Regions from separate parts of the Homo sapiens genome. Here region 2 is linked to region 1. Evidence: fine-mapped expression QTL. A gene starts in region 1. The other region holds a variant in brackets. All regions are shown on one strand. Distances are from middle to middle. Region 1 holds the start of PLCZ1 (phospholipase C zeta 1). Region 2 overlaps PIK3C2G (phosphatidylinositol-4-phosphate 3-kinase catalytic subunit type 2 gamma).

Region 1 (4,403 bases):
AAAGTAGAGTGGAAGAGGAGCCAAAATTACTAATAGTCCTTCATCTGAGCTAGATTTTTGATATCTGTTGGTTTTGTGGAAAATCCAAACCTAATGTCTTTTATTGAAATTCCCCATCTCGTGGATGGTCTAGGACTGAATTGAGTTATGTAAAATATCATTTGTGGAGTGATATTCATTTGTATACCTTTTCAGTTCGAAACAGTCAAAAGTCTCTCTCTCTCTCTCTCTCTCTCTCTCACACACACACACACACACACACACACACACGTACACACCCACACACAGCCTTAACCCTGGCCACCTCTATACTATTTCTGGAATCCCAGATTCTATAAAACTATTTTAGTTTCTAACAAATGTCTTGGTCTTTATGATGGTCACCACCATGAAACACAGTTACTTTACACTTTCTTGCCTTGTTCATAAATATTCCCCAAGTAAAATTACTTGCTACACTTTTCCCATTTAAATTTGCATTGGCTAAGTGAGAGACATCTCTACAGATTGCTCAATTTTAGGAAAATAACCATTCCCAAGAAACACAAACAAGTCAAATCAAGATAGTTACCAGGAGCAATTCTTTATATTATCCAGTTGCACAACACACTTCTTGAATAAATGACATATCCTAATTTAGGATACATCACCAGATTCAAGTCAGAGAGTATCCTGTGCCAGTCAATAAGAGTGCGGGTCACTGGAAGATCCCTTCGTAGAATTTTTCTCAGGGCTTCATTGGATAACTCCTGTAATTCTTCCAAGACTGCAGCTTGAAATTTGTTCTCTTGCTCTTCCACAAGCCTTGCAAAACTTAGAGCCAGTTGAGCTTGGTTAACTATTTCCAAGCTTTCTTTCAGGTCCTTGGATATTTCAATATGAAGGTTGACACACCTGAAGAAGTGAGCTTGCACAAATATTCTTCCCGTTACTTGGGTTAGAAATGGGTTAACTTGGAAAATCCATTTAGATTTCCAAAGTCCGTTCCAGCACTCTCCTGTTTCATAGTTGTGATCTTCAATGCAAGCTATCAAGTACTCCTTACTTTTGACAGTTTTTCTCAGCATGTTGCAATTTCCTTTTGGATAGTGGTCATTCACATACAGTTTTAAGGCGCACAGAAGAACAACTCTCAGGTATTCTGCCTCATTCTGAATGATACCATGACTTTGGATGTCTTTCAGCTGATTTTGAAGCAGGTCATATTTGAAAGAAAGTTTGCTTTGATGGTCAAAAAATCGGTAGTCGCCCATTACATTGTGGTGAGACAAGAGTACTGGATTTCCATCGATGCAGAGTGGTACAGAATATTTTTGGCAGTGTTGGTGGCCTGCACACTCACCTTGGTGGTGCATAAGTTTTTCATCACGGATAAGCAGACAGAGATCATCAAAGGCATTTACAAATTCCCCTGGAGGGGCCTGTAATAACAGTCTGCGAATTACTCTTTCCTTGTCCTTCCTGCTCAGCACGCTAAGTGTCATGTTTGGTTGCAACAGAAGCAAAGCTTCTGAAATGAGGAGTGTTCAAAGGATAAGAAAACATTCCATGAGCCACCTTTCCCATCAAGGTGTTAACATTCAAGCTGAAGGTTTTTATGTCTATCCATGAAAGCAGGCAGTCTGGCAAGGTCTGAGCCTCCTGATGAGGTCATAAGAAGCTTTCCTTGTGAAGTGTGGAACCTCTGATGATATCACAATGGGAATTCAGACCAAAAGGAAAAAATGACAGTCACCTGACAGTGTGGTGCCCAGCCAACCAGCTATACCTCTTTTGAAGATTTTAAGAACTTAGCCTCCTGAACAGTCTTCTTCGAAAGTGGTGTGTCTCTGTGTGCATTATATGTTGTCAACGATCTAGAGAAGCAGCCCAAAGTTTCAAGAGTGACAGCACTTTGCAACTTCAGGAATCACAATGGTGTTGATTTATACTCAGGCTCTCAGAGTAGCTGCCCAAACCCACTGGAAGCATATTATGATGAAAGGTTTGAGGGGTTTAAACAAAGTAGTAAAAAATAAAAGGAGATACAATGGCAGTTCATGGAAAAATGCCAGACATCAGGGAAAGCTGTGTTTTCAAATATTGTGGGTTTGGAGGTGGTCAGAACGTAAGAAGCCAAACAGTTTCAAGGGCAGGGTAGTGCAGGTACCACATCTTGCATACTGTTTCTATGGTTAAGTGTGAGCTAGCTTCAAAGAACGAAGGCAAAAAAAACCACTGTGTGTTCTCTGCTTTCTCCCTAGAAAAGTGGTAACAGCTGATGAGTATCAAGAAATTATTTTCTGCAAAGGGGCAGAGTTAATTGTATTTGGAACCCATGACAGCACCTACTGGGGAAAGACTTCTAAGTGAGGAGAAACGGCTCTACAGGTCATGAAACTATGGAAATGAGATATCCATTGAGAGCTTCTTTCTGCTCCTCTTCTTCTTTCTCCTACTTATCCTCTTTACTTGATGCTGTTATTCTTTTCGAGGAGTTCTGAATTTAAGTCCTCTTCATTTAAGTTGAACTGCTTTTCCCTGTTTGTTCTGAGCTTTTCTAACTTTCCCTGCATTCTGGTATCTTTTTCTTACAAGAACATGAGCTTTGCTGGATTAAGTCATAACTATTAAATTTAAGGAGATCTCATTAATTCGTTCTAACAATCTGAAACTTAGTAGTTTTGCACAATTTTTACCTATACCTTTTATAATTTTAGTGATAATTGTCATTATCTCATTTCGATCTTAGTTTTTCAAATGGAAGTGTCCTAGTTTTTGTAGTTTATCTATGATAAGTAAGCTTTTAAAAATTTTTTTCGTTTTTCATACCAAATATACACTCACCATGGTATTTCTGATGCTTTTTGATGGTACTGTCTTGAGTGTGTGTGTAGCTGGGCATTGGACTAATGTAGTAATAATAACTTTATCAGTCATGGTTACTATTTATTGAACACTAAGTAGCAGAAACTGTGTTCGGTGGCATATTAGGAATTCATCTAATGCTTCCACTTTCCTTAAGATTCAGGGTTAATTTGCTCACCTTTCTGGAAGAGAGAACTAAAACAGAGAGGTCAGGTGAGAGGCGATCTTGAAGTCTAGCTGCCTTCCAACTTCATGCCTTCAGGCAATAGATTGTTATAATGTTTTAATGTATGTTCTAAGTAATGACTTCAATTCTCAAATTTTAACTTTAATTCTTTTTTTTGTATTTTTACTGTGCTATGCCCTTTCATACCTTTACCATAGCATAGTAACTACTTAATTTTGTTTTTTAAAAAATATTTATCATACAATTATACTATAATTTACTTTAAACATATTCTTTAAAAATAAAAATAATACAGTAAATCAAATGTTTCTTTAGGAATTTTAAATATTCAATGACTTTCTGTGAGAATTTCCTTAACTTTTTTGTGCTTCTACATGGTTTTTGTCAAAGATTCAGGATGACTTCAGAGGTGGAAAAATTAACCTAGAAAAAACTCAGAGGTTACTTGAAAAATTAGATATTCGGTGCAGTTATATTCATGTGAAACAGATTTTTAAGGTAAGATGACATCCACCCCCTGCCTATCCTATCCTAGGTGGAACTTAATCCAATGTCAGTAATTGTCATATAAAGGTTAGTCTCTTAAGAAGAAAAGCAATTAATTATACTAACTATATTTACAATCAAGATGGAGAGCATTTCAGTAGAAGGTAAAATTAGTTGTTGAGAAAATCTGAAATAATACCAGGATATCAGTTTAGAATAATTTCCTGAGCATACAGAAATGCTAACATTAAACCTAGGATTGGATGTCTAATTATATCAGACTGATAATGGTAACTGTATTAGATGTTAGTGATTTATAAAAAGAGTGGAGAATAAGCCCAAAGTTAGCAGAAGGGAGGAAATAATACAGATTAGCACAGAAATAACTAAAATAGAAAAGAAAAAAATTAGAAGAAATTGAGGAAACTAAGACTTGTTTTTTTGAAAAGTTAAATAAAATTGACAAATACTTAGAGTAAGAAAAAAGAGAGAGGAGTCAAATAAAATCAGAAATGAAAGTGGAGACATTACAACAGATCTCACAAAAATGAAAAACACATAGAGCAATCATACACCATAAAATTGGACAATCTAGAAAAAAAAGGGAAATTTCAAGAACCATATAACCCATCAAGACTGAACCAAGAAGAACTAGAAAGGTTAAACAGACCAATAACAAAAAGGAGACTGAGAGGCTGTGTGCAGTGATTTGTACCTGTAATCCCAATGCTTTGAGAGGCCAAGGTGGGAGGATCACTTGGGGCTAGGAGTTTGAGACCAGCCTGGGTAACATAGTGAGACCCTGTTTGGAGACTTAATCAGTAATCAAAAACTGCCCAACGAAGAAAAGCCCAGGACCAAATGACTTCACAGGTGAATTCTA
Region 2 (4,403 bases), 94 kb after region 1:
ATGACTTTAGGAGTTAATTGCTTTCCTGGTTAAAATACAAACATTTGAACTTCCAAAGTTTTTATTACTTCATATATTTTTTCCCTCTGCTTCATTAAGAAAAGTTATTTTCTTAAAAGTGACTGAAGTTTTATAAACCTGTAATCATTGCACATTATAGATGATAAATATCTATTCTGATTGCTTTGGTGCATCCATGATGTTGTTAAATAGTAAGTACTCTTTTCAACTGAGCAAAGAATAATTAGTGGCTAATGTTAGCGAAGTACAGAGATGATTATATTCTTTGAGACCTTTTCGTCAAAGGATTTAATATATATTCTGCATACTCAGAACAAAAAAAAATGGTTCTGGTACATACTCAGAACCAAAAATAAATAGCTCTTTTAATTTCTTTTTCTAATAATTTTTACCTATAGGCATGAGTTAAGTCTTTACTACCTTCTGACAAATAACTAAATGTGTGGGTTTGGAATTATTACGTCTAATAGAAAACACTTAAGGTAATTAATATCTATTAACATATACTGAACATTCCAAGAATTTACTGAACATTAGTTGACACAAGGGTCTAGTAAATAATTCTAAAGTGTATTTTCATGATTGAAATGAGAGGACAATAAGATAGGAACTGAAGTGTCTCTAGTGCTTGTGGGAAGTGGTAGAGGAGGCAGGATAATGAAAGAAAGAGTTCAAAAGCGAGAACAGGGGTACTGCGTGGGAGGAGACAGGTAGGAATAACAGCATAGTGTAGTGCGGTAACCATGAGCTTTGGAATCAGGCAGTTCTGGGCTTGACATCTAGTTGTGTAACCTCTGGGTCACATTGTCTTCACTTACAAATACAATTTTCATCATGTTGAAATTGCAATAATATTATAACACAGATAACAATAACTATAGCTTACTGAGTGTGCCATATACTTGGCATTGTGCTAAGTAATCACTGTATATTCTGCAGGAGATTTTAAGGGATGTAAAATGCATAGAACGTTCCTGTTCTGTTCTTTCTAATTTTCCCTTTACACCTTACAACAGAATAATATATAAGAAAAGGTTACAATATACAAAATATATTGATTATAAGCATGTAATTCTGTCATAGGGTAGAAATTCTGTATTTCTAATGAATTGTGTGAAAAATGATGGTTTTTAAGAAGATGGCAAAAGTAGTGGCGTGGAAAGAGGCTTTGGAGCCCGGAATCCCACCTCTGCTTCTTCAAGCTGTATGGCAGTTCCCTGAGCACTCACACCCCCAGCCCCAGACCCATCTTGAGACCAGCCATGCCTATCACTGGGATTTGTACATGACAGGGGTTTTCAGGGAGACTGCTGATGAAGCCTATTGGGGCTCACTCTGCGAAGTGTCAAATAGACAAGCTTGGCCCTGCATCAAAGCCTTAGTATGGGAAGGGTGGAGACTCTGTCACTTTTCTGTGTCCCCGACCCAGCCCCTCTCATCTCTGGATATTAAGGAGAAAGGAGGATAGGAATAAAAATAAAAAGAACTATTTTCACAAAAGGCTTTGTAAGACATTGGTATGCAGTGTAATATCTTCTTTGTACTCCTCTGAGAGATTTATATAAAGAGGAGAGTGAGGTCATCCTCTCCCACTTCAAGAACAGTACACGGCTTTTACAGTTTGAGAAATCCCAGCTGTGGTGAGTGGTTGATGCAGCAGTACTCAGTGAGGCGGCGGAAGTGGAGGAAAAGTTTAAAACAAGGTAGATGCCCTGTGATAACTCACTGGGCTCTCTAGTAAGCACTGGGCTTATTGGTAAAGACATCTAGTAAGGT[G/C]CTCTTGAGGTTGCACACAAGTGATCGAGGAGTTTGACACAAAGATGGGATCCTACATCACAACTGAGGGCAAGAGACAGTAAAATCAGAGTTAACATCTAGTGTGCTTCTTTGCATTTCTTATAAATATTCTTGTTGTGTTGATACAGGCATAGAATGAAAAAAATTAAATTAACCGTTGTTGCCTTTTTTTCCTTTTGGCTCTTGGAATTCACCCAGCTTCTTTGCCAGAATTGTTTATATGATTAGAAACCTCTTACTGTCCTAATGACTACTACTAAAATCATCACTTATACACACACTACTTCAAATTTCTGCTTGATTGGACTATGTTCTCATCGGAATTGGCTATGCATGGACCATGGCTTTCGAAGCAATTTAAAATGTGTCCAAAGTATAAAGTGTCTATTCATGCTACAAGTATAGATCAATTGAGAAAGATTTGTAGTGAGTTTTAATCAGTGGGTTATGGATGTGTGAGGACCTAGGTATTGCAAGCCCTCAGAAAAGTTATGTGCACAGCAAGAATTATAAAATAATTTTCCATGAATATAATTTACTACTGTTTTCTTATAATACATAAAGCTTGAAATAAAACACAAGTTTATTTAAATTGTTCTGAATTGTTAGTGGTTTCTTGTTATTATATGTTTTCTTATACTGAAAATGCTTATGCCTAACACAGGGTCTGAGAAGTTTCTTGATAGTGAGGCATGGAGACTTGTACTCAAAAAGTATGAAAAGAAACAGTGATATATTGTTGGGAAGTGTATGCTTCTCACTGTTGACATCATGACAAATAATAGTGTCAAAATATTTTTCCTTACCAGTTTAGAGAATCTCTCTCTCTCTATATATATATGCAGTATATACATGTATTTACATTTTATACACACACACACACACACACACACACACACACACACAGTGTCACTTATAAAACTGCCCCGAATATTTATTACACATCATTTTAGAGGTAACTAAGTGTTAAAAGTATTAAAAAGGATAAGACATTTAACCCGCCCTGGAGAAGTTTATGATATACTAGAAGAAAAACCGTGTAGGACTAAAGAAAGGATTATAAGTGTGGTGTGAGTCCACGAGGTGACAGTGTTTGCAGAGTTCACATCTGAGGTCAGTCTCAAAGCAGGCAGAGAAGGGCAGAGAGAGGTGAATGGTGGCATGAGTTCTATCACAAAATCCTACAGTCCATTCAGGGAATGACAAGCTGTCTGATGTGATCTGAAAATATGGCTAAGTATGGGATAACAAAAAGAGTATAAGAACACAAATATTCCCAAGTGATTTTTGACAAACGTGCAAAAGAAATTCAGTGGAGGAAGAATTGCCTTTTCAACAAATAGTACTGGAATAATTGGTATCCACAGTGGGGAAATAAAGAGCCTTGACTTAAACATCACATTTTATTAAAAATTTAACTCAAAATGGGTAATGTACTTAAATGTAAAATGTAAAGCTATACAACTTTTAGAAAAAACTATAAGAGAAAATCTTTGAGACTCAGTGCTAGACAAAGAGTTTCTTAGTTTCGACCCCAAAGGTACCATCTATAAAAGAAAGAATGAATGGAGGAAAGCCTGGTCTAAAAGTGCCTATGAGACATTCAGATGGAGCTCCCCAGTAATCAGGTAGAAGTGTGACAGAGGCCGGGCATGGTGGCTCACGCCTGTAATCCCAACATTTTGGGAGGCTGAGGCGGTGGATCACCTGAGGTCAGGAGTTTGAGACCAGCCTGACCAACACGGCAAAACCCCGTCTCTGCTAAAAATACAAAAATTAGCTGGATGTGGTGGTGGGAGCTTGTAATCTCAGTTACTCGGGTGGCTTAAACAGGAGAATTGCTTGAATCTGGGAGGTGGAGGTTGTGGTGAGCTGAGATTGCGCCACTGCACTCCAGCCTGCTAGACACAGAGTGAAGGGCTCCATCTCAAAAAAAAAAAAAAAAAAAAGCTTGAGAGAGAGAAGCCAGGGTTTTAGGAGTAAATTCAGATGCAACCTACCTATAGGTGATAAATAAAACTTTGTTGATCCACAAGATAAATGTGAGAGTATGTACAGGAAGAGGAGATGAGGATGGATCATGTGACTTCAGTAAACAATAATATTTTAAGAGAAAGAATAACAATGAAGGAAAATGAGAGAGGTGGTAGAGAAATGGAAATAAGTGGTAGAGAAATAAGTGGTAGAGAAAATGGAAGAGAATTAAGAAAAGGTACAACTCAAAAAGCAAAACGGAGGTTTCAGGAATGGGGCTGTGGTCAGTAGTGCTGCTGTATAACTGATCCAGGCACGAGAGCCTGAGGGCTCTTTGGATTTAGCAGTTAGGAGTCTATTGATGCCCCTTGAATAAAGTACTATCAATAAAGGTCAGAATCCACATTGCAAAGCATTCAAGGGTGAAAGGGAGAGATGAAGGGAAAGCAGATCATGTGGGTTAATTTTGGATAAGTTTGGAGGTGATAGTGAGGGAAAGAAAATTTGCTTAGCAAGCCTGAGTTGGGGAGTTTTTGTTTTTGTTTTTTAATATTTCTGAGTGGAGGATCCTGTGGATGAGACAGCCATAAGAAAAGGAACACAAATAAGCA

What was found. PIP is the estimated chance that this variant, and not a neighbour inherited with it, causes the effect.
Region 2: its variant is the best candidate, but not a certain one, in a credible set for the expression of PLCZ1 in sun-exposed skin (GTEx, PIP 0.64).

What each region holds. Positions count from the first base shown.
Region 1 is chr12:18,735,350-18,739,752 of GRCh38, reverse strand. It overlaps PLCZ1 (phospholipase C zeta 1), which reads left to right and starts at 1,741. Exons shown (of 15, transcript NM_033123.4): 1 at 1,741-1,821; 2 at 2,244-2,392; 3 at 3,409-3,532. The coding sequence starts at 2,382. CAPZA3 (capping actin protein of muscle Z-line subunit alpha 3) reads right to left here and starts at 1,634. Exons shown (of 1, transcript NM_033328.3): 1 at 565-1,634. The coding sequence starts at 1,484. The coding sequence ends at 585.
Region 2 is chr12:18,641,108-18,645,510 of GRCh38, reverse strand. The region is part of intron 32 of PIK3C2G (phosphatidylinositol-4-phosphate 3-kinase catalytic subunit type 2 gamma); the gene reads right to left. Among named protein-coding and RNA genes, the nearest start is that of PLCZ1, 95 kb to the left of the region's middle. The variant G/C (reference allele first, on the strand shown) is at 1,798.